4 linked regions of the Homo sapiens genome follow. The protein of the gene in region 4 purifies or fractionates together with the protein of the main gene of each other region. This does not show direct contact. Each region holds a gene or a part of one and is shown on either strand. Other genes may lie near its edges. The genes, in order: STXBP5, STXBP5L, PRMT3 and STX19.

Evidence for each region.
Region 1: the proteins of STX19 (region 4) and STXBP5 purify together in Homo sapiens (affinity purification with mass spectrometry; 3 studies listed by BioGRID and IntAct, with this or other methods). This does not show direct contact.
Region 2: the proteins of STX19 (region 4) and STXBP5L purify together in Homo sapiens (affinity purification with mass spectrometry; 3 studies listed by BioGRID and IntAct, with this or other methods). This does not show direct contact.
Region 3: the proteins of STX19 (region 4) and PRMT3 purify together in Homo sapiens (affinity purification with mass spectrometry; 3 studies listed by BioGRID and IntAct, with this or other methods). This does not show direct contact.

What each region holds. Positions count from the first base shown.
Region 1 is NC_000006.12:147,314,830-147,320,910, reverse strand, and holds part of STXBP5 (syntaxin-binding protein 5), read right to left. Parts: intron 5,397-6,081; coding exon 5,176-5,396; intron 4,683-5,175; coding exon 4,504-4,682; intron 1-4,503. UniProt on the Homo sapiens protein: Plays a regulatory role in calcium-dependent exocytosis and neurotransmitter release. Inhibits membrane fusion between transport vesicles and the plasma membrane.
Region 2 is NC_000003.12:121,256,910-121,262,990, forward strand, and holds part of STXBP5L (syntaxin-binding protein 5-like), read left to right. Parts: intron 1-251; coding exon 252-424; intron 425-2,133; coding exon 2,134-2,259; intron 2,260-3,109; coding exon of another isoform or gene 3,110-3,116; exon of another isoform or gene 3,117-3,605; intron 3,606-6,081. UniProt on the Homo sapiens protein: Plays a role in vesicle trafficking and exocytosis inhibition.
Region 3 is NC_000011.10:20,388,974-20,395,054, reverse strand, and holds part of PRMT3 (protein arginine N-methyltransferase 3), read right to left. Parts: intron 5,312-6,081; coding exon 5,229-5,311; intron 2,845-5,228; coding exon 2,795-2,844; intron 2,789-2,794; exon of another isoform or gene 2,298-2,788; intron 2,159-2,297; coding exon 2,056-2,158; intron 1-2,055. UniProt on the Homo sapiens protein: Protein-arginine N-methyltransferase that catalyzes both the monomethylation and asymmetric dimethylation of the guanidino nitrogens of arginine residues in target proteins, and therefore falls into the group of type I methyltransferases.
Region 4 is NC_000003.12:94,024,389-94,031,012, reverse strand, and holds the start of STX19 (syntaxin-19), read left to right. Parts: upstream 1-2,415; 5' UTR 2,416-2,646; intron 2,647-6,624. UniProt on the Homo sapiens protein: Plays a role in endosomal trafficking of the epidermal growth factor receptor (EGFR).

The sequences.
Region 1 (6,081 bases), on a different chromosome or scaffold from region 4:
GTTATCATGCAATCCCTATGTTTACAATCTTCCCATGCATTCTTGTTCTTGGGTTTTCTCTAAAATCCAGAAAAAGGATCAAAATAACCATAACTGTATCAATAGAGCCATTACTTTATGATATTTTTTACTATGATTTGTTTATATTTCTAGTTTTAAAAATCAATACTTAAAATTTTAAGTAATGTTGTAATTTAAATGTATAACTTGATGTAACAATATATAACATTATCTATTAAAGTTAGTAAGAATTTGCATTTATGTGACCAGCCAAACCACCCCCCATGGCTGCCAAAAACAAAAATCAAGCATGTGTACACACACACACACACACACACACACACACACACACACACACTCAAATTAGCAGGACTGCTTCTCCACATCTGTTGTATTTTCTTGAGTGTCAGTGGAACTCCTGGGCTTCTCTCTACCCTCTTTCTAACTCTATCCCAGGAATGGTAGAGTCCCTATGTAGCCGGTAAATATGGAAATAATTAATGTAGCCCTCTCATTTTCCCCTCAACCTGTGTTCATTTGGGAGCAAGTCTGCCCAGGGGATGCATTTTCTTTTCTGCTGCTGCAAAGGCAGTGTTCTTAATACTGCCACGACTGGGAGGATAAGGCTATCTCTGTATACAGGTCAGTCAGTACCAGGAAACCTACCTGGCTCTTGTGCTAGTTGGCATCTTTACCTTTAACAATAATTAAGGTGATATTTTTAGTCACCATCTGAAATTATTTTATTTCTTAATGTGTTAAGAATACAGATGGGGGCCAGACACAGTGGCTAACATCTGTAATCCCAGCACTTTGGGAGGCCGAGGCAGGCAGATTGCCTCCAAGTTTGAGACCACCCTGGGTAACATGCCGAAAACCCATCTCTATAAAAAACTACAAAATTAGCTGGGCAAGGTGGTGTGCGCTTGTAGTCCCAGCTACATGGGAGGCTGAGTTGGGAGGACTGATTGAGCCCAGGAGGTCGTGGCTGCAGTGAGCTGTGATCACACCACTGTACTCCAGCATGGGCAACAGAGCGAGACCCTGTCTCTTTAAAAAAAAAAAAAAAAAAAAAAAAAAAAGAATCCAGATAGGTAAAGAGAAGTATAATTACTGGGCTCCTTCGTAGATTCTAGTAAGCAATTACAGGTGACAGGACTCTGGCTGAATCTCCTATGTGTGTCTTTAAAGTCTGAACTGCTTCAAAGTTCCATCCATTTTATAAAACATACTGACAGGGCAGTTTACCTCTATCTGACACCAAACGCTACTTCCAAAAAGAACTGTCCCTTAAAATATTAAGTCTCAAGATAAAATGAATTTATAAAGTTTTATTATACATGAGGTTAGTTGTTATAAAGTTTTATTATACATGAGGTTAGTCTACAAAAAACCAAAACAGAAGAAAAATTATTAAAGTAACTCAAAACAATGTAATTGCCTTATGAATCACTTGTCATATGCTCAAAGGTCTAAAGGACAGCTGTCATGTTATATTTTACTATTCATCTAGTGTTTTACTATCAGTGGTAATTTTAATACTACAATTTTGGACTTACTTTTGTTAACAGATAAATAATATTAAATGGAATAATTCCAGGCTAATCAAATTATAGGAGAAGAGTGGTTTGGGTAAGAGATTTAAAATTATTTATTTACATTATATAGTAATGTAAAAACTCAATGAAAAATAAAAGAGTTTTAATGACTGTTTTTTAAAAAACAACCCCCCCATTTTTTTTAGCTCTTGTCACCAGGTGGTCTACTATAACAATATACTGCTTATTAAAAATAATGTTACAAACATTTCTAAAGATCATATTTTGGTCTGTTACCCTGTGAGGGCAAGTAGTATTCAAAGCAAGTCTAGAACATCTTGACAGAAATTAAGGATGGTCACAAAGTTCTGAGGTGGTGTTAAGAAGACACAAACACCAACTTAAAAGAAGCTCCCTCTAGAAAACTGTGACAAAATCACGTTAAGTTGATTAAATTCAGTAAGTTAAAACAAATTGCCTATAAAAAATACCTAGAGTTCCACAGTGATATTCAAAAGGAAAAAAAACCATCAAATCACAGTCATTAGTTATTTTAGGATTCAGAAAAAACTGTTAAGATGTTATTGCGTGTATATCCCAGGATTGGCAAAGTGTATCCATACACAAAAGATAACAATTAATGCCAACAACAAAAAGGACTCTCCTCACATGTATCATTAATGGATTGGCTAATGAGACTCTCTGTCTACTGGGACTAACCAGCAGCTTAAAAGGAATTCTTATATTAAGTGACATTCCATTAAATAATTACAAAAGATTAATAGTGTGCCATAACATTCCATCACAAGTATGAAAAGTCCTCCCAAACAAGAAAGATGGCCATACCATAATCTCAGGTCCATGAACAATAAAGAAAACTCATAATTGCAGAACGAAGTCAGTATTACCTTTAAAATGGATTTGGGTACTGTTGTACTCTGCATTTTGGTTTGCTGGTTTTAACAGCTGCTGCTGGTTGCTGCCTTAACTATTATCCTTGCTCTTTCAGTCAGTAAAAAAACTGGAAAAAAAAGGCCTTTCTAAGAACAGAGGACAAAGACTCACCTATCAGGCTGGCCTTTAACTTTAACCTAGAAAGCCAAGGTAAGAGGTCTTGTCACTCTGGTCCAAACAGTACTGCTTCTCCTGTCAGTACTATTTCCTCTGACCTATCTTGTCATGAGAAAGCAGTGCATTGATGGTGTTTTTTCTTCAGGTAGGAAAAGAATTTAATGTTTTATACTGCTGGATCTCTGGCCACAAGCCTAAAAAACTTGGAGGCATCAGAAATTATGAAGTACAAATTAAATAAATCATTCTAATTCTGTTGAAGATAATGTATGTTTATATGGAATTGTTATTTTGTTAAAATGTCACTTCAGTAGTTGAAAACACTATTTCAGAAATATAGAAATACGTTACAAAAAATGCCCCAAAGACAAATTGTACTACGTATGTCATAAAAATTAAATGTAACAAAGGGCTTGGGAAAAAAACATTGAAATCAGAAACAAGGGCATTAACGGAACATTTACAATTTTAAGTATAAAGTAGTATTGAAGAAGTAATAAAGGGGAAAAGTGTAGAATTCTGTATTCCCAAGTCTCATTCTAGTTAAAACATGTGCTAGAACTACAGTTATAAGTGTGTATATTCTAGTACAGGTATGAGAGAGGGAGAGGAGAGAAAGAAAAACTTGATACCTTTCTGAGAAATGTAGCTGCTTAACCTCAATGGGTATATACTGTTTGGATCAGAGGTTCTCATCCTTGGCACTACTGATGTTTTGAGCTGGTAATTCTTTGTTGTGTGCACTGCCTTGTCCATTGTAGAATATTTAACATTATCCCTGGCCTCTACCCACTAAGTGTCAATAGCATCTCCCTTCCTCATGTTGTGTCTACTAAAAGCATCTCCAAATGTCCCCTAGGGAACAAAATCATATGCAAATGAGAGCCACCAGCTTAGACTACATGACCTTCAATTTTTGTAAACATATAATTTTCTAAAACTCTGTATTTTTAAAATGATTGTAATATAAAAAAAATCTATCCGTTTTATCTTTGGTGTGAGTGCATTATTCATTACACAGACATTCTTCCCAGAAATTATTTATCTACCAGTAGAAGAGACTCAAGCAGATTAAAGTAAAATAGTGCAAAGCCTGGTCCTTTTAATAAATGCAAATTATTTCTCTTACTTACTACCCTCTCTACCTTGAACCTAGTACACTCTGGCTTTTGCCCTCTACCAATCTACTGAATCTCTCTGAGTGCTACCAGAACCACCTTTCCGTCATTATCCTAGTTGAATTCTTTGTAAATATACTATTAATCACATAGTCTTCATGTACTTTTTCAATGATTTTAACTTCTTACTCATTGTTTTATTTCTCTGCCTCTATCATTTAAACATTTTAACCACTCAATAATAAAAATTGGACAGAAAAAATAAAACTTCATCCAATTTATCTCTGTATAAAAGCAAGATATATTTAAATTTAGGATGCAACAATAAAACGTTTTAAATAAAGATACGGTGGTGCTAGTGAAGATTCAGAAAAAGAAAATGATTAGAAAACAACTGAGTCTTAAAAGACTTAAACAGAATTTTCAGAGTTGTAGAAAGCAGTCGGAACATAAATCCAAGCTACATATAAATCAAGACTAAAAACACTGATGGATTTAGAAGACTGAGCGATATATACAGGTTAGATCCTTGCTGCTTTACGAGAATGTTTGGAGATTAAACCTTAATATTTTAAGGATAATATCATGAAATGCAATCATATTCCTCTTGATGTCATAGAAAAATGAGTTGGACTAACCATAGCAAAACACAGGAAGAACCATTCTTATGCCATTTTGCTATATCAAAAGAAAATGTTACCATAGCTCTAATGCTTACAATTTATATAAATTAAAAGATAATATCCAAAACTCCTCTGTAGTTTTTTATAACTTACTTTAAACAAGGTACATTATCACGAAGCCCATCAGATGAACTGCTACTGGTAGATGGATGAGACTGAGGAGGGATGGGCTGAGGGTTGGACCCTCCCACGGGTGTTGGCAAAGGTGGTGGCTGCTCACCCTCCGGAGTTTCCACATCATTTATCTCATATAATAATCGAACTTCAAGCATCTGTTGTAAAAGTAAGGTAGTTTACTTACTCCTAATAATTATTGCTCATTTTATCACAATTTATACACACATACACACACACTTTACATAAACTTCAGTGGCAAGAAGATTTTTAAAGGTAAAAATTTAGCAAGATTTCAAAAAATAAGGATTTAGCAAGAAAGAAAACGTTCTTGACTCAGGGAGTACACACACAAACGTGCATTATGATTTTAGAATGTATGGTACTCGTGTTAATATCAAATTAGAGTATACTCATATTCATATTAGCTTTCCTTAAAGGAAACATATCCTATACTTAAGGATTTAAATAATCAGTGAAAATATATGCAAAAAATGCTGTTTTTTACAAAAGAGAGATAATAATATAAATACTAAGGTGTTTTCAAAAGTTCTGCACAAAACTGACTGCAAAAAGTCTTCCAAATCATCCACAAATTTAAAAATGTGGATGAAAATAACTTGACCATGAAAATAACTAAGACGTTATTACCGGAATGACTTCTGTGATTACTTCCTGCTTGCTGAATCTATAAATAATGACATGAGCTGAAACTCCAGCGATGCACAGCATTCTACTTTCTGGACACCAGGAGATGATCTGAATGGCATATGGATCTTCATCTACAATGTCTGTGTTTGGCCTGTCATCTTTATTTCTTGACTTTTCAAATACTTTAGATGTCTTTAGCTTATATAATACTTGTAGAGTTACTGGAAAAAAGATAATATATGTCAGATACTTTAATATAAAATGATCAAACATAAGGTAACATTTAATCACTCATACTATGTATAGAAAATGGTCCATATTTAACTACATCATATTTTCATTTCTCAATTTACGTTAGTCTATTAAACATTTAGATAATATATTCTTTGTTCTCATTGACCAAACAAGAGTGTGCTCATTGTATTCATGAAGAAAAATCTATTATCACAATGGATTTTAGGTAATCTTAAAAAAATGAGTAATAAAAACATTTTGGAAAAATAATGTGTAAATACATGAAAATAATAAACAACACAGTTTGCTTCCTAAAATGATTTTCTATGTATCTTCTCTAGAAAAGATACAGTACCAATATAATTAAACATTCCTACATGAGGAAACACAACATATCCTGAGTTAACTGGATTCCAATTGAATGCTTGCCATGTGTGTTTTGAAACATTAATCATTAAAGGCATTATTTCTTTTTTTGCTACTATGTAACCACCAGATTTATTTCGCAAAGACAACATGAACGTTAGTGATACAAATTTAGAGTCAGGCATTAAAATTATTCTAGAAATTTCTGTTGATTTGGAACACATTCCCACTTCCCCTAACTCTGACTTAGGAAGATAAGGTTTGAAGAAATTTTGAAGGAAAAAATAAAATTGAATACTTGTGTTG
Region 2 (6,081 bases), about 27 Mb from region 4:
TGAAGTTTAAAAATTTACATTTTTTGTGATTGCCATTGAATATTCCATATAATTAACTATTTGATTTAGTATGAGATACTTCTCAACTTTCCTGTAAATAGTATTGAACTTATTAATTTGAAAAAAACTGTGTGAATGATTCCTAAAAAGTTATCAGGTATTTTAATGTGATTATTTATTATGACTTAGATTAAATTAAAACGATGATTATTAGTGTGACTTAAATTAAATTTAAACTTGATTTTTTTAAGTCATTAGAGGTACGACTTCAGTATGATGTTGAAGATATTATTACCCCTGAACCAGAAACAAGTCCTCCGTTTCCAGATCTCTCAGCCCAGCTTCCTTCTTCAAGGAGTCTTTCTGGGAGCACTAACACTGTTGCTAGTGAAGGAGTAACAAAGGACAGTATTCCATGCCTCAAGTAAGAGTTTCTACCAAATTTTCAAACAATTTTAGATATTAATCATATGTCTTTGAAACTGTGACAAATGAAATTAATTTTCTCTTATTATCAAGCTATTGTCAGGTGATCTACAATTCTTCAGGGGTTACTCTGGTCTTTTCTTTGAACATCTGTGAAGAGGGCATAATATTTTCACCCTTCATTCACTTATTTATATATTTCCTTCCCAGAAGGACTCTAAAGAAAACATGGCTTTCACAGAATAGGAAGTTTGGCAGGGCAGAAACTTGGTGACATGCATGATATTTCCAATTGAAAAAGTATGTTTATGGGGTGTGATGGCTCACGCCTGTATTCCCAACACTTTGGGAGGCTGAGGTGGGAGGAATGCTTGAGACTAGGAGTTTGAGAGCAGCCTGGGCAACATAGCAAGACCTTGTATCTACAAAAAATTTAAAAATTAACTGGGTGTGATGGTACACACCTGTAGCTCCAGCTTCTAGGGAGGCTGAGGCGGGACAATCACTTTAGCTCAGGAGTTTAAAGTTGCAGTGAGCTATGGTCTTGCCACTGCACTCCAGCCTGGGTGACAGTAAGACCCTGTCTCCAAAAAAATAATAATGATAATTTTTTAAAGAAGTATGTTTATGTAATTTCTTTAGCTTTCTTGGAATCAAAAAGAAAACCAAGTTTACTATCTACTACAAGAGTTCTATATTAGAAAAAAGGATTTCTCTCATGATTGCTAGTATATTTCATAATCTTTCTTTTTTAAAACTATTTATTAATAAGCTAAACAAAGATTTGCATCATGTTCAATAAAACCTAAAGTTAACAAAGCCCATAGTAATATTTTATGATTTTAGTAATAGAGTATAAATTACTACTTACTGCTTCTATACCATCAAATCAAATATTTCTAGTGTTAGCTGGCTGGAGAATTAAACCTAAGCAGGGAATTTCTTTGAGCTGCATATCTACATTTGCCACTCAAAAAACTTTAGACAGCTAGTTTTCTCATTTCTTACAAATATGCTTATGGAAAATTTAGAGATAAGATTTTAGGAGCAAAATTCATGCAATTAGCAGATGCTATACTTTTGTAATCATTGATTGTCCTCTCAAAATTTTCTTTTGATGTACATAAAAAGAAGGAAATATGAGCAAATATTACTGGGAGGAAAATCTACAAAGAGAAAACATCATCATAAAATTTTAGCTAGTGGATATATTTTTTGAAAGTAGCATCAGTAGTATTTGATAATTGGTTTGTTGGGAAGTATGAGAGAAAGATATTAGTCAGCTTTAAAGGAAAATAGGAATTCAGATGCTAGATATGTTGAACTCTTACACTGGAGGGTAGGTTAATGGTCATTTGTTTTATTGTTATGCTTTATAACTGATATATATGTAACATATATTACATTAGAAAAATAATTACATAATAAAAATAACTTAAAATAATATTCTCAAAAGAAAAAATTGAAATGATAAAGGCCAGTTGAAGTTGTGGACCTAACTGGCTGAAAAGCCACATAAAGAAATAACTAAGTAATCATAAGGGACTCAGCATATTTTGAGAAAACTAGAAGGCACCATCCATCTGCATGCTGCCTGCAATGCCTGGTGTTGTATATTTCTGTAGCATGATTCTATGTAAATTCTCAAGATAAGTTTGACCATGTTTATTTAAGCTGTATATAATAGGATTGTTTTTGTTCTTAAAGTGTGAAGACACGGCCAGTGCGAATGCCTCCAGGATATCAAGCAGAACTTGTTATTCAATTGGTGTGGGTAGATGGTGAACCTCCACAACAGATTACTAGTCTTGCTGTAAGCTCAGCATATGGAATGTAAGTAATTAAACTTTTTTATGATATGTATTATTTAGCTAATATGTTTGATTTTTTAGATGTTCCTTGCTTAAGTCCTAAAAATGAAAAGAAGCCCTTACCTGGATTTTTATTAGATTAAACAATATATAAGAAAAATAATTTAAATTTACATTATGGTTTTTTGTTCTTTCTTGAAGTCAAACCTGTGATAGTGTTCCCAATTTTGATGTTAGTAGGAGATTGTTAGGATTTTATTACACTTAAACTGTGTTGTTTGTTTTTATATTGTCTTTTTTTCTCTTTATATTTCATTTTGGATACTTTCTTTTGACTTATCCTTTAGAGTTCACTAACTCCCTCTTCAACTGTGTCTGATCTGATGGTAGATCCACCTATGGAGTTCAATTTCAGCTATTTTATTTTTCAGTTCTAGACCTTACATTTGATTATTTTAAAACATCCTGTTCTCTTCCTAAATTATCACTCTATTCTTTATTTCTTTGAACATATTGAATGTATGACTTTAAAATGTGTTACTTTAAATATGTGTTTGATACTTCCATATTTGGTATCTAGTCTATTACATTTCTTAGTTTTGGGTCACATTATATTATGTTCATGTATGCCAGTTTGTATGATTTTTTTATTAGTTGTTCCTGGTTTTTTTTTTAATTGAGAAATGAACATTATAATTTGAGGTTCTAGATGATACTTTCCTCCAGAAAGTATCTACATTTCCTCTGGCAGTCTAGGTTAAAAAACTATTGAAGGGTCAGAACAACATAATTCAAGCAGACATCAGGTCTTTGAAAGTTGGATTTTATTCCCATTAAAGCCTAATTTAATTTCAGTTAATCCTTATTTCTAGGTTGTAGCCCTCCACAGAGGTTGTGTCAAACTATACTCCCACCACCAATGTTTAGAATGTCTACTTTCCTACAACCTTTCTAACTACAATGTATAATCAAACTTTCCATCCTGGTCAGTTTGTTAAGTAAAGAGTAGTATGTTATTATAATATCAGTAAAATTTTTGTATATCTTAAGTGAAATTGAACATCTTTTCCTGTTTTGTGACATTCTGTTTCTATTCTTTGTCCATTTGTCTGTAAAGTTGTTGGCCTTCATAGAGATTTGTGAAAACTGTTTGCATATTAGGGAAGTTAGCTTTCTCTATAGTGTAATTTGCAATGATCTTCCCTGCTTTTGTTTGCTTTATGACTTTGTTTAAGATGGTTCTTACTTTAAAGAATTTTTTGCAATTCTATTTTTTGTTATCTTTTATGGCTCTGAATTTGTGTCTTATTTAAAAAGTCCTTCCTCACTTCAAGATAATAATAAAAATTAATAAAAACAAAAAAATTATGTTCTCTCTAATATGCTTTTTTTCTTTTATATGTTTAAATCTTTGATCTGTCTGGAATTTTTTTAAGTATAAGATATGAAGTAAGTATTAAACTATATTTTTTCCTGATGGCTAAGAATTGTGCCAATACCGTTTCCTGAATACTTCATCTTTCTATGCTTATTTGGAATCAACTTTTATCAAATAATACATTACCTTATATATTTCACTTTTATTTCTGTACTTCCTAAGCTGAGTCTTATAAGCTCCAAGAGAATGCCTTGAAACCATCAGTAAGGAGTCCATGGAAAAAAGTCTTATCTTTGAGTACCTGGAATTTTCTTCAGGGGGATGTGGAGGATATATGTGAACATAGAGTATTGGGTGCTTGCTTCTTTACTAGAATATTATTTGATGGGAAAGCTGGCAACCACAGTTGATGGATGATGGGAGAGAAGGAATGGACTGTGGGATAGCCTACTGTTTCATTATTTGATACGGTAAGAATATATGATTATTCTCTAGCCCAAGTAATTACTGTGAAAGATAGTTGAGCTCAAGCCATCTTCTGAGTTCACTTCTCTAGAGTTTGACCTGTAAAGACAAGGGGACTTCAGAATTCAGAGACTATAAAGATGTGTCACCTGGTTCAGAAGCTGAAGTTTGTTAGAATAGATCAGATAAAAAAACACATTTCCCTTATAAGGGAACTGTGGAGGTGAAAGTTATTACAGAGCTTCTGAATAACTGACACTTGTATGAAAATGACAGCTTGGACATCTATCTCATAGAGAGCCTCCACTGCAAAAATCCTAGTTCATGTGGCTACTAGAGTAAATTCCACCAAGTTTTAAAGAAATAAATTTTACAAGTATTACTTTAAATGTTCCTGAGAATTATTAAAGATGAAATCATGTTCATCTCATTTTATGGCCAACATAACTCGATGCAAAAACTTGAAAAGGGTATTACAAAAAGAGAAAGTTGTAAGTCTATATCATTTATGAACATGGATTTAAAATCCCAACCAAAATATAGATAAATCTAGCAATTAAAAAAGATAACATATCATAACCAAGTTTGGTTTACACCAGGAATTCAAAGTTTTTAAACATTTTAAATTAATCAGTGTAGTTCATCACATTAGCAAATAAACTAGAAAAACCATATGATGGTCTGGTCAGGAATGCAAAAAACAAAAACATCTGATAAAATTAAATATCCATTTATGACTTCAAAAGAAACTAATAGCTAAAATGGAAGGAATTTTTCTTAATCTGATACATTTTAGCAAATATGCTCTATGGTGAAATGTTAGAGACTTTGTCTTTGAGGAAAAAATAAGAGAAGTTTCTTAGTCCATTTGGGCTGCTTAACAAAATATCTTACAAATTGGTAATTTGTAACAACTAAGATTTATTGCTCACAGTTCTGGAGGCTAGAAAGTCCAAAATCAAGGTCTCAGGAGATTCAGTGTCTGTCTCTCTGCTTTGCTCTCTGCTTCAAATATAGCACCTTCTAGCTTTGTTTGCGCTTGGCAGAAGGAGTGAACAAACTCCCTCAGAATTCTTTTATGAGAAAATGAATTCCATTCATAATGGCGGAATCCTCCCAAAGACCCAGTCACCTTCCCAAGGCCCCAACTCTTAATACCATCACCTTGAGGATTAGATGGTCTGAATTTGGGGAAACACAAAAATTCAGACCATAACATTGTGACCTTGCTTCCCAAAATTTATGTCTTTCTCATATGCAAAATACATTCTTTTGATTCTAATAGCTCCAAAAGTCTTAAAACATTTTAGCATTAACTCAAAAGTTTAACGTTCAAAGTCTCATCAAAATATCATCTGGGCTGGATGTAGTGGCTTACGCCTGTAATCCCAGCACTTCGGGAGGCCAAGGCAGGTGGATCACCTGAGGTCAGGAGTTTGAGACCAGCCTGGCAAACATGGTGAAACCCCATCTCTACTAACATTGTAAAAATTAGCTGTGCGTGATGGCACGTGCCTGTAATCCCAGCTACTAGGGATACTGAGAATCGCTTGAATCCAGGAGGCAGAGGTTGCAGTGAGTTGAGATTGTGCCATTGCACTCCAGCCTGGGTGACAGAGTGAAACTCCATCTCAAAAAAAAAAGTCACCTGAATCATATATGGGTGAGACTCAAGGTATGATTCATTCTGAGGCAGGTTTCTTCTCCAACTGTTACCTTATGAAATCAAACAAGTTATATGTTTCCAAAATACAATGGTGGGATCAGCACAAGGTAAACATACCCATTCTAAAAGGAAGAATTAGGAAAAAAGAAAGGGATAATAGCTCCAAAGTAAGTCCCATAAAACTCCCATCTCCCTGGGACAGAGCACCTGGGGGAAGGGGTGGCTGTGGGCACAGTTTCAGCAGACTTAAATGTTCCTGCCTGCTGGCTCTGAAGAGAGAAGTGGATCTCCCAGCACAGCGCTTGAGCTCTGCTAAGGGACAGACTGCCTCCTCA
Region 3 (6,081 bases), on a different chromosome or scaffold from region 4:
TGACTATCCTAAAGTTATATATCTGTTTATGGAGGAACTAAGATTTAAACCCAAACCTGCCTTCCCAGCCCACGTTCTTCCCATTACACAAAGCCACCTCCTAGCCCATGTCCTTATTGTAGCAGGTATTAAATTCAGATATTGCTTAAGGGAAATCCTGCCATATATGAAAATATGAATGAACATGGAGGACATTATGTGAAGCAAAATAAGCCAGACACAAACAGACAAATACTGTGTGATCTCACTCTTGTGTGGAATTAAAAAAAAACTCACAGCAGCAGAGAGTGGAATGGTGGTGGAAATGAGGAGATGTTGGTCAAAGGGTACACACTTTCAGCTACAAGATGAGTAAGTTCTGGGCATCTGTCTATTGTAAAGTGACTATAGTTAAAAATGCTGCACTGTATACTTGAAATTTGCAGACAATAGATCTTAACTGTTCTCACCACAAAAATAAAAAAATGGAATGTGAGGTGATGATGTTAATCAGCTTGGTTATGGTAATCATTTCACAATGTATATGCATATCAAATCATCACATTGTATACCTGAAATGTACACAATTTTCACTTATCAATTATACCTGAATAAAACTGGAGGAAAAAAAAAACATTCCTAAGGACAGCGTGTAAAGAATTCTACACATTCAATAATTTTTCATCCTGGGCAAGGTGGAGTGAAATCTATACACTAAAGTCTTATTGCTGATATTATTAAATATCCTAATTCCTAGTATTTAATTTTAATTTCACTTCTCTACAAAGAGAAGTTAATATATGTAGTTAGTGAATTTCACAAAATCAGTGTCCATTTACTGATCTAACTTTCGGATCAACTTAAGGCAGTGAGCAGTGCAAATATTACATTTTCCCCTCAGGATAGCACTGGAAGAAATGTGACTTCGTAAAAATTCCTATTCATTTTTTAGTTGTGAAGACACGTCCTTGGAATTAGGACAAAATAGCTAAGCCAAACGAATGCATTATACTATAAGAGACTACAGCCTAAGTTGAATTCTTGTTATAAAAGCAGTGCAGGGTGTCACTAACTTCTCATCACTGTGGCAGAATATTGAGTCACTGAGGTTTAAAAACTGCATCATTCACTATCTAATTCACCAAAAATTAATCAGCACAACAAAATATTTCCAAACTATATAAGGCTGGTATACTGTATTTTCTACTTCCTACTACAAACCTCATTTTGTATTTTGATTTCAAAATTCTTCAAACTGTTTGGCCAGTTTCTGTTTTGCTTTCTGCTGCAATAAAAATTAGTCATAATAAAAACTTTTTAATGTTAAGAATATGCAGATAATTATATATTAAAGATTAAACTTAGAGATTTGAAAAAAAGAGGATTCAGTAAATATTAAGATTCCTAACTACAATTTGCTAGAACAGTCTAATTCAAAGGCCTAAACCATATTCAGAAAGATGAACATCTACATCTACCTTCTGTCTCAGGATGTTCAAATCACCTGGATACTTCTTTCGGGCAGAGAAGAATTACTGCAAAGGCTGACCAATTTTTCAGTAAAATATAACAATTATAAATGTGTATAAACCTCACATAAGAGCTCCAAAATACATGAAGCAATTAAAGGCAAAACCAGACAATCTTTTGATCACAGAGTTTTTAGTTTTTTTAGACAGAGTCTTGCTCTGTCACCTGTATACCAGGTTCAAGTGATTCTCCTGCCTCAACCTCCCGAGTAGATGGGACTACAGAAGCCCGCCACCATGCCCGGCTAATTTTTTGTATTTTTAGTAGAGATGGGGTTTCACTGTGTTAGCCATGATGGTCTGGATCTCCTGACCTCGTGATCTGCCCTTTTAGCCTCCCAAAGTGTTGGGATTACAGGCGTGAGCCGCCACACCTGGCCGACTATTAGTTTTTAAGCAACTTAACTTTTCTACTGAAACTAACTACCTGATGAAGCATTTAGATAATTTTAAAAAGCATGTCTTTTCCTAAAACACTCTACCTCCATTTTGCCGTTAACAAACGGCCTTATGTTAATTAAAGGAGATACACTTATGTTCATCTTACCAAATTGAAGTAAAAGGTCATCTTCTAATACTGGCTTCAAATACTCTTCTTTCTCCCAAGGCACTGGGTTGTATATGGAATTCATGTACTCAACTGTAGGATTCTGGATATAAAATTAATCTCATGTTTTTTTCATTACATATAATCACAAAATCCCCTTAGTAAAAACTACAGAAATTAAACAAAAAGGAAATCATGTTTGCATTACACAAAGTCAGTATGTCTCCAAAAAGTCTACGTGCCTGTCATTTCATTAACTTGCTGGACGACTGCTTAACCAGCAGTTTCAACGCAGAGTTTTTTTTACTGTTTGGATTTGGGGAAAGCGTTGTCATGTCATTAAACATTCATTTAAACAGGACAAAAAAAAAAAAAAACAAAGTATCTGAAAAAAAACAGAATAAAAAAGAGCAACCAAAATACTTAAAATCACATTAGAAATTATTTCTGATTTTACAGATCCTGTCCATCAGTATTTCCCTTTATTTGACACTGAATTACTTTTTCACATACACCGATTCATCTCTTAGATGCAGTGAAAACAATATTTGTTAGTTATGGTAGACATTTACATGGTGCTTTCTGCTGTGCTACCTCCTAATGTCCGTGATTCCCCCAATATGATGAGTACCAAATTTAATGCAGTTCCTCATATTCTTTTAAATAATCAGTACACTGACAGTCACTGTAGCATTTCTTTGATTTCTAAACGAAATTATAAATTAAGCTGTCAACTTACCTTAAGTCTAATAAAATTTATTAGCTTAATGTATCCATAAAATTCAAGTCCTAAAGGGGGAAAAAGATAATTCACCTATGTTAACATAATGAGTTTTGTTTAACTGACCTATTCTATAAAGCCTTCTCTGATTAAACAATAAAATAATTCTGACCTCTAAATTACTACTTATATTTTGAATTTTATTAAGAATTAGAAGTAGTAATACAATGATACTTCTGAATATCTTGAGAAGCAGCCATAAATGACAAATTAAAGCTTTTCTAGTATTTCTAAAAAGATGGAAAACTGATTTCTAAAATTCTACTCCTCCTTTGTCAGAACAATACAAATCTGGAAAATTAAGATCCACATTTTACCAAGTATTTGGCAACTGATATCAGAGCTGAAAGTATTAAATCCCTAATTTTTATGGTGTGTATCAAATTATAATTTTGCCAGGACATGGTGTATACTAGCTTTTACATGAAGTTAAATGATGCAAGCCCAATAAGGCTTGTTATCTGGTTCTCGTATCTTTCCAGAAATGAAGCAGCATTTAAAACAAAGGAAAGCAGTAATACATCCAACCAACCAATTATTTGTCATAAAACTCTTGTTATGAGAAAACTTTAATAGTATACAAACCCCCTATATCGGTAAGTAAAAAAAAAACAAAACAAAATTCTATCTTAAGTATGATTCTAATACTTTAGAAATGCAACATTAAAAACATTAAGGCTGGGCACAGTGGCTCATGCCTGTAACCCCAGCACTTTGGGAGGCCAAGGCAGGCGGATCACCTGAGGTCGGGAGTTCCAGACCAGCCTGACCAACATGGAGAAACCCTGTCTCTCCTAAAATACAAAATTAGCCAGTGTGGTGGCGCATGCCTATAATCCCAGCTACTTGGGAGGCTGAGGCAGGAGAATCACTTGAACCCGGGAGGCGGAGGTTGCAGTGAGCCGAGATCGTGCCATTGCACTCCAGCCTGGGCAACAAGAGCGAGACTCCGTCTCAAAAAAAAAACAAAAACAAAAAACATTAAAAAATGAGGCTGTCATTTATGCCTTACGAAAGTACTTGCAGTTGAATTTATGATTTATAAACATGTGATATCACGTATTTATCTGACACTGAAACACCTGTTAGTATTTGCTATTCTTCAGTAATGTCCCTTCTTAGTTGTCAACAAATATAGGGACCAAAAAACCTATTATTTTTTTTTTTTTGAGACGGCGTCTCAGTCTGTCACCCAGGCTGTAGTGCAGTGGCATGATCTTAGCTCACTGCAACCTCCGCCTCCCGGGTTCAAGTAATTCTCCTGCCTCAGCCTCCCAAGTAGCTGGGACTACAGGCACATGCCACCATGCCCGACTAATTTTTTGTATTTTTAGTAGAGTTGGGTTTTCACTGGGTTAGCCAGGATGGTCTCGATCTCCTGACCTTGTGATCCATCCGCCTTGGCCTCCCAAAGGTTTTCACTGGGTTAGCCAGGATGGTCTCAATCTCTTGACCTTGTGATCCACCTGCCTTGGCCTCCCAAAGTGTTGGAATCACAGGCGTGAGCCACAGCACCTGGCCTATTTAGTTAATTTTATTGTAGTATAGCTCTTCTACATCCATTTAAAGTGGAAGGCCTTAATTGTAAGGCAAGTGTGTTTAAATAAAAGTTTCAATAGAAACATCACCTGAGTATTTTGCATATTAATCTTAACTTCATCACTCTTTTTCCAGTCTCTACCGAACTTTGTATAAAACTCAGTCTCGTAGGCTGTGAAGTTCATGTCATGCTTTGAGCTGATTGTCTTTTTTCAAATGACCTGCGTCCTTTTTCAAGTCCTACATCTACACTTGCTCTCCCTAAATCTAATATGTAATCACATAAAATGTAAAAATGTAATCACATGCCAAGTCTGTTTTTGTTTTTAGTTGAAAAGCTAATATAAGCTTAAATACAGTGAATCTTGTCTAGAAGAGTGACTTATTCATCTTTTCTCAAGGACCGCTTGTCAAAAAAACTCCATTTCCACAAGATGTTGCTGTGTGATTCGCCATATTAAACTCGTACAGAAAAGGGTCTGAAAAACTATAAAATCTGAACTTATATTTCACAGATTTTTTTTTTTTTTGAGAAGAGTCTCACTCTGTTGCCCAGGCTGGAGTGCAGTGATACCATCTCAGCTCACTGCCACCTCTGCCTCCCAGGTTTAAGCAATTCACCTGCCTCAGTCTTCTGAGCAGCTGCTATTACAGGTGTGCGTCACCACACCCAGATAACTTTTGTATTTTAGTACAGGTGGGGTTTCAGCATGTTGGCCAGGCTGGTCTTGAACTCCCGACCTAAAGTGATCCACCCACCTCAGCCTCCCAAAGTGCTGGGATTACAGGTGTGAGCTGCCATGCCTGCCCAAATTTCACAAATTAAATTGCCTTTATTCTAAAAACTACTCACCATGTTTATGAACCATGCTGTCAATATTAAACTGATGCTCAGACTTACAGTGTGAAAATGTTTCTTCAGCAGATGTGAATAACCTGAAAAATCAAGCAATAGCTTCATGGAATAGTCCCCTAAGAAGTCTAAATACTGATTTCATGTTACATATACACTTTTTTTTTTTTTTTAACTCTGCTGGTTTCTAGTTTTACTTCCAATTAAGAAAAAACAAACACACTTGTATCTGAAAGGAAGGGAATCCAGCACTTTTAAAGGGAATTAGTACTTCTGAGTCCCATTTTATACCTAAAACCAATTATCCTTTAAATGTCAAAGTGAATTTATTTGTCAAATAATATCACTGATTTTATCAAAAGGCTTTTAAGAGAGTTCCCTTTGATAGAGTCTGTTTCTCTCAAGTCATACAATTTCTCTACTTGAGATTCTTTTCTCCTCTAAGTGTCAACTCTGCTTTCAGAGGCTTTGAACTGGCACAGCTCAAACTGCTTTTAGAAATAAAGCATAAAATGTAATTTTACAGCTGGCATACTCCCCAAGTGCCTTATTTCAAAAGTGATCTTGTAGTATTCCCAACGTACTTGCATCACAGACACTGTGAGGATCAATCCTCTTTATTATGTGACATGCAAATCTGAAGGCTACTTAAAGACAGGAATACACAGCAGAGAAGCTGTATACCTTATCTATATTCCTAACACATGTGGAGCATTAGTTTTCCACAAATGTTTACCGAGATAGGTTATGTCGACTATTTATGGAGGCTATCACAGCCACGGTACCACTGGTGCTCAATAAATATTTTATGACAACTAGAATATATACAGGCATTCTATCTACCCAATGGGGC
Region 4 (6,624 bases):
TTTAGCAGAGATGGGGTTTCACTATGTTCCCCAGGCTGGTCTCAAACTCCTAGGCTCAATCCTCCTGCCTCAGCCTCCTAAAGTACTGGATTACAGGCATGAGCCACTGTGCCCAGCCTTAGATCTTATTTGTATCTCTTTTTACTTATGCTGAAAACTACAGTTTCTAATGACATTATTTGTTTTATCCAACTATATATAGGAATTTTAACATAATAATATCAATATGATTACTAAATATTAAGACTACTAAGTGCAGGTTAACATATCTTTGTGGTTACGTATCTTTGTCTCTACGCTATATCCCACTAGAGATGCAGAGTCAATAATACTGTTTTAAAATTACTTAAAATAGTACTTCTCTGTGTGGTTTTGCCATCACCTAGATATATACCTAGGTTCATTTCTTTCTAGGTGCTTTTGCATTTTAGAGATCGTTTGTGTATTTGTTTTAAGATTTAATTTCTAAAATATTTATATCGGCTGGACGTGGTGGCTCACACCTGTAATCTCAGCACTCTGGGAGGCCAATGTGGGTGGATCATTTGTCAGGGGTTCAAGACCAGCTTTGCCAACATGGTGAAACCCTGTCTTTACTAAAAAAAAAAAAAAAAAAAAATGAGCCAGGCGTGGTGGCGTGCACCTGTAATACCAGCTACTCGGGAGGCTGAGGCATGAGAATCGCTTGAACCCAGGAGGCAGAGGTTGCAGTGAGCCGAGATCGCGCCACTGCACTCCAGGCTGGGTGACAGAGTGAGACCCTGTCTCAAAAAATAAAAATAAAAAAATATTTATATGGTTCTAAATTCAGAACTATAAAAACAAGGTACAATCAGAAAGGAACTATTTGCTATCTCTCTGCCTTTTCCTTCCCTTCCCTTATAGGTAACCATTTTCATTCGTGTTTAGTTCATCCTCCCATTATTTCTTTTTGAAAATATAAACAAGCGTATGGAGAAAATGGTATTTCAAGGACCATAATTTGGGCACTGTGAATATTCAATGCTATTGACTGGTTTATGTATTTGTGTATATATACAATATTTATATCTACCCTTCCTTTCTTCCTAAAACTTAGCATATTATATATATTCTTCTGCAGCATGCTTGTTTTAACTGAACAGTAAATTTTGAAGTACCCTGAAGCAGTATAATAAAATCTTCACTATTTTCTATAATTGCAAAATGCTCCCCTTTGAATGTTCCATCATTTATTCAGCCAGTTCTACGCTGAAGGACTTTTGTGTTTCCAGTGTTTTGTTTTTACAAAGAGTGCTATAAAAAGTAGGTGTGTAAAGGAGTCATTTCTTATTTTGAGTACAGATTCCAGGAAGTAGAACTGTTAAAACAAAGAATAAATATAAATGTGATTGGCCGGGCATGGTGGTTCACATCTGTAATCCCAGAACTTTGGGAGGCTGAGGCAGGTGGATCACCTGAGGTCAGGAGTTCGAGACCAGCCTGGCAAACATGGTGAAACCCCATTTCTACAAAAAAATTAGCTGGGCGTGGTGGCAGGCAACTGTAATCCCAGCTACTTATGGGGCTCAGGCAGCAGAATTGCTTGAACCCGGGAGACGGAGGTTGCAGTGAGCCAAGATCGTGCCACTGCACTCCAGCCTGGGCTACAAGAGCAAGACTCCTTCTCAAAAAAAAAAAAAAATAAAAAAAAAATAAATATATATATATATATATATATATATATATATATGATTTTGATAGATACAGCAATTTCCTTCTTCTTGCCCTCAAATAGTAACAAGTCAGGTAGAAAAAATGGGTCTGAAATTTGGTAGTACAAGAGAAATTTTCATTTTTAATTCTTCCTATAAACATTTCCCTCTGGTATAAATTAATTTTGAGTTGTTATATTGACAAAATAAATGATTTAACATATATTGCTGGATAACTTTAGTTCTATATAAAATTTATTTTAAAATAAAAACAGCAGGCATAATAAAAAGTAAAAAAAATTAAAAGTAACGTGGGATGAATGGTTTACAGACATGAGCTCTTTCCTGGATGTTCTCCTTCTGAAATTCTATGATTTTGTGAGCTAAGCTCTTTTGGGATTTCCTAAAATAGGACAGATTTCAACCATTTTAAAGTAAATGGAACAAAAAAAGCTTTTACACCAAGCTTCTTTTCATTCCTATTTAATTCCATATTTTTAGTAAGTTTTGATATCTATAGAAAAGAAAGTAACCTTTGTTTAAATACAAACCCATTTTCTTGGAATAATATATTACATATACAATGTAGGACTAAATTTGCAGATCCAGTGCCAAATACTCTACGTAGGCAGTTTAACGAGGACTTCCTGTTACCGACTAGCTCCAATGAAAATGATCTTCCTTTAATCTAAAGAATAGGCGTCTAACAGGCAGAACCAGATTCTCCAGGTGTGAAGTAAGCAATCTATTTTCACTTGCTATTAACAGCAAACGTACAACTTTATCTCTTATTTGACTTCATTATTTGGCTTTCAAATTAACAACATGAAAACTATACAGAAATTAGTCTGTGCCCTATAAGACAGAGATTTAGATAATTTGTTCAAAACATGAGATGATATTCAGATATTCTCTCAAAGGCAGGACTCCAACACCGCAGGTGGAAAACCAACAAAAGGAAGAAAACAGAAAGGTAAATAATGACTCTTTTCTGTACTTTTTAATATGAGGTATCCATAGACTGACATCTGGTTACACTGTTACATTTAAAAATCACTCAACAAATAATGAGGGTTACTTGTTTTGCTCAGATTTGGACCGGGGTACCAGTAGCTGATTTGTTCACATATATTACTGACATGCTGACTGGGATCTGGGTATAAAGCTCTTGAAAATAGACTACGATAATAAAAATCAACTTTAGAGGAAAGAAAAAATTTTTAAGTCTTTTAAAAAGTAAGCTCTCATTTAAAAAATACTAGAAAGTCAGATGTAAAAACAGATCTAAAATTATTTCTTTTATAGACAGACTATGAATGTGCTTACTTTAGAGAACATTTTTATATTTCACTCTGAAAAGCAGCTTATACCCAAATTTGACACATACGTATAACCTTAAAAATCTGAAATAATTTGCTATAATGGTCTTAATTGCTTCATTGTTGTTTACTAGAATCTTCTAAAATTGAAAAAATGAGAAAATAATCTTGTGAAAGGGCTACCAGAAAATATCGAAGTACTCACTAACCTTTATAATATTTCAACTAGTACATTAAAAATACTTGTTATACCATTTAACGTAAGTGTTAGCATTTAATTGATAGTTTGAAAAATTTAAATCAGCATCATTTAAATACAACATATGTAGATAGGTTAGATACTTTCAAAGTTATAATTGTTACTATGTTAGAATTTAATAAATATTCCATTTCAAATCAAAATAATAATGACTTTTATATGTATTTTAAAGGTGGACTTGAGAATTGGCCACGTAATACCTCGAACACATTATCTTCACAGCTATGCAGTTTTAAATGTAATATAAAAATCATTTTATGTATGTACAGCTTACTTGAATCAGATAAAAGTTCAAAAATTATACATCATATTTAAACAAAAATGATCTTAATGTTGTTATACAAGTTAATTCAATAAGTTATTTAGACTAAATAAAATGTAGAAAAAAGCATTGAAAGTTTACATTGCAAAAAAAGTCAGATACTTCAAAATTAGACAATATATGCAATTTGCAATTTTTTTTTAGTTTTTAGAAACTACTATTTGGCCCTCACTTTAGTAGCCAAAGAGGTTAATATATTACAATAAGATCCTCTGCTTTCACTTGCACTAGAAAAATGTGGCAAGTTGACTTCATATACAAAAGCAACAGAATATTCTGTTTTCTCTTGGGTAAAAACTGGTCATATTTCTTGAAATGTTTTATTTAATCATTACAGTAACTATGAAAAGAAATGGCCTACTTTAAAAAAATCTATAAATACACTAAGTATCTATCCCAGGGCATATTTCTAAAAGTACAAGGTAATTTTTACTCATGTTTCTGTTTCTAGGGATTTTCAGTGTCTGTAATAGGGCAGAGAACCTTTTATTTGAGTCGCACCAGTTTACTTTTCTATTTCCCAGAACAAGTTGTCCAAGTTGATTATCATACATACGAGTTAGTGTTCTTTCTTTTTTAAATATCATGTTTAAGCTCACAGATACAGTTCTTGCTAGTAAAATTCAAAACTGTATAGCAATGCTGCAAGTTAAACATAATAAAAGATGATTCATATTTGTATATAACTCTTCCAACATAATAAATTTAAGGTACATAACAGACTGCATAAAATAGTAATTTCATCAATTTCACCTAGTCTAAGCAATTAAATGATTTCACAACTATGAGCTTCATATTTTATGCTTATATGAATCCTGTCCTTGCATGTTTTAAATTCTAACATGCTTATTTGTCTCATTTTGCCTAACATTCTAATTCATGAAGATATAAGATCAATAAATTGGATAGTTATACATATAGTTATGAGTATGCAACTACTAGAAAATGTAATTTATATACAGCATATAAACATATTTGAGTACCTATCAAGTCAATTTCTACACAGATGAACAAGGATTTAGGGAAACATTCTCAATTATGTTAATTCTATAAAGATAAGCAACTGTGACTTTCAGTCAAAATGCACAGATACAGAAGTTACTCCCTCTTTCTCTAAACATACAGAATTTGATGTAATCGTAAGTTTAAAAAAGACAAATTTTAAAACAACATCACTAAATTTTAGAGTAAAAAAGCGAAGTTTTCTCCTGGCTCACACGGTGAAACCCCATCTCTACTAAAAATATAAAAAGTTAGTCGGGTGTGGTGGCGGGCGCCTGTAGTCCCAGCTACTCTGGAGGCTGAGGCAGGAGAATGGCGTGAACCCGGAAGGCGGAGCTTGCAGTGAGCCGAGATGGTGCCACTGCACTCCAGCCTGGGCGACAGAGAGAGACTCCGTCTCAAAAAAAAAAAAAAAAGAGAAGTTTTCAGGTGCCAGAAATGATGAGGAAACATACTTAAAGCCAAAGTGAAGAGTAGTAATTAAAGCTAATTACACTGGGCAAATACTTTACCTTAAAGCTGAGGTTTAGAGTTTGTTGCATTATAGGGAACTAAAACTGAGTTTCCTAGATGAAACAGTTAACTAGGAATAATACAACATAATCTGTATACAAAGACAGGAATAACTCTGTTGACTTGCCCAGGATTATAGCAGGAAGTGAGATATCCACTTAGGCTATAAAAATCACTAGAGAAAAATTAGGCCTACATAATACTACCTGGGCTACAAGGGGCAAACTCCATGGGGCGTTGGTAGTGACAATCAAAAAAATAGCCTCAATGTATCCATAATTGATCAGGACACTCAGAGCATTCTTGTATAACTCCCCAATGAAGCTAGGCTACTGACGAATTTCACTAAATACACTTGCCCACATTTAACAGAGTGGTCACCAGTCCGTGGCCACAGCAAACATAGGAATTTACTCCTAAGAAACTAGAAATAACCTAATAATGTAAAGGATCTTTCACATAAATATTCTCTAAATGTTCAAAAGAAATACAGGCATAGGATCCATAAACCAAGACAAACACAGTATAACCTTTATAGCTCACTTTAAACATCGTTTACATAATACGCATTGCCATGATGTATAACACTGAAAGGAAACCTGATTCTATTTCCATGTTTTGCCTTTAATATCAATAATGTATACAGATATTAAAAAAAGGATATTTTGTTTTTTGCTTGTAAATTCATTAAGATTAATAAAAAGGACATATTAATATATTTTAAAGGGCTCCTTAAAGTACCTTTTATTCAAATATAAAAGTGTGGTGCATGTTCAGGGAATGATATTACATGGATAAAAATCCAGGAAAAAAACAACCTTTATAGAGGTCAGACTCAAATATCCTGCTTTCCAAAATCAGTGGCAGTAAAATGCACCTTCTCAAAGGCACTTCACAGGAAAATTCACCTTCCCAGAGGCCTGTGTACACTGTGCTCCAATAGCAATTTGAAATAGTCTATTTCTTAAAAATTTTTAAACTATGATGCTTTAGAAAAAGGCTTTTGATTACTTTATTTCTAATTTTTTTAAAAAAGAGGCTGGGTGCACTAGCTCATGCCTATAATCCCAGCACTTTGGGAGGCGGAGGTGGGAAGATTGCTTGAGCCCAGGAGTTAGAGATCAGCCTGAGCAACACAGCAAGACCTCATCTTTACAAAAAATTTTAAAAAATCAGCCAAGCACAGTGGCATGCAACTGTAGTCCCAGCTACTCGGGAGGCTGAGGGAGAAGGATCACTTGAGCCTGGGAGGTAGAGGCTGCAGTGAGCCGCAATTGAGCCACTATACTCTAGCCTGGGTGATAGAGTGAGATCCTATCTCAAAAATAAAACAAAACAACACGCCCAAAAAAGGACAAAGATCTTTCCAGTCATAAAAACATTAGAGGGAGTTGTTTCAGGATTTGTTCCAAACCATGCAACCAAAGAGAAAGTTCAAGATGTTGTAGTTCTTGAGGAATGTGAAAATTAAAGATTGTTAAAAGCTACTGAACCATTGTATAAATATAGGACTTAATTTTTATGGATAGAAAATCA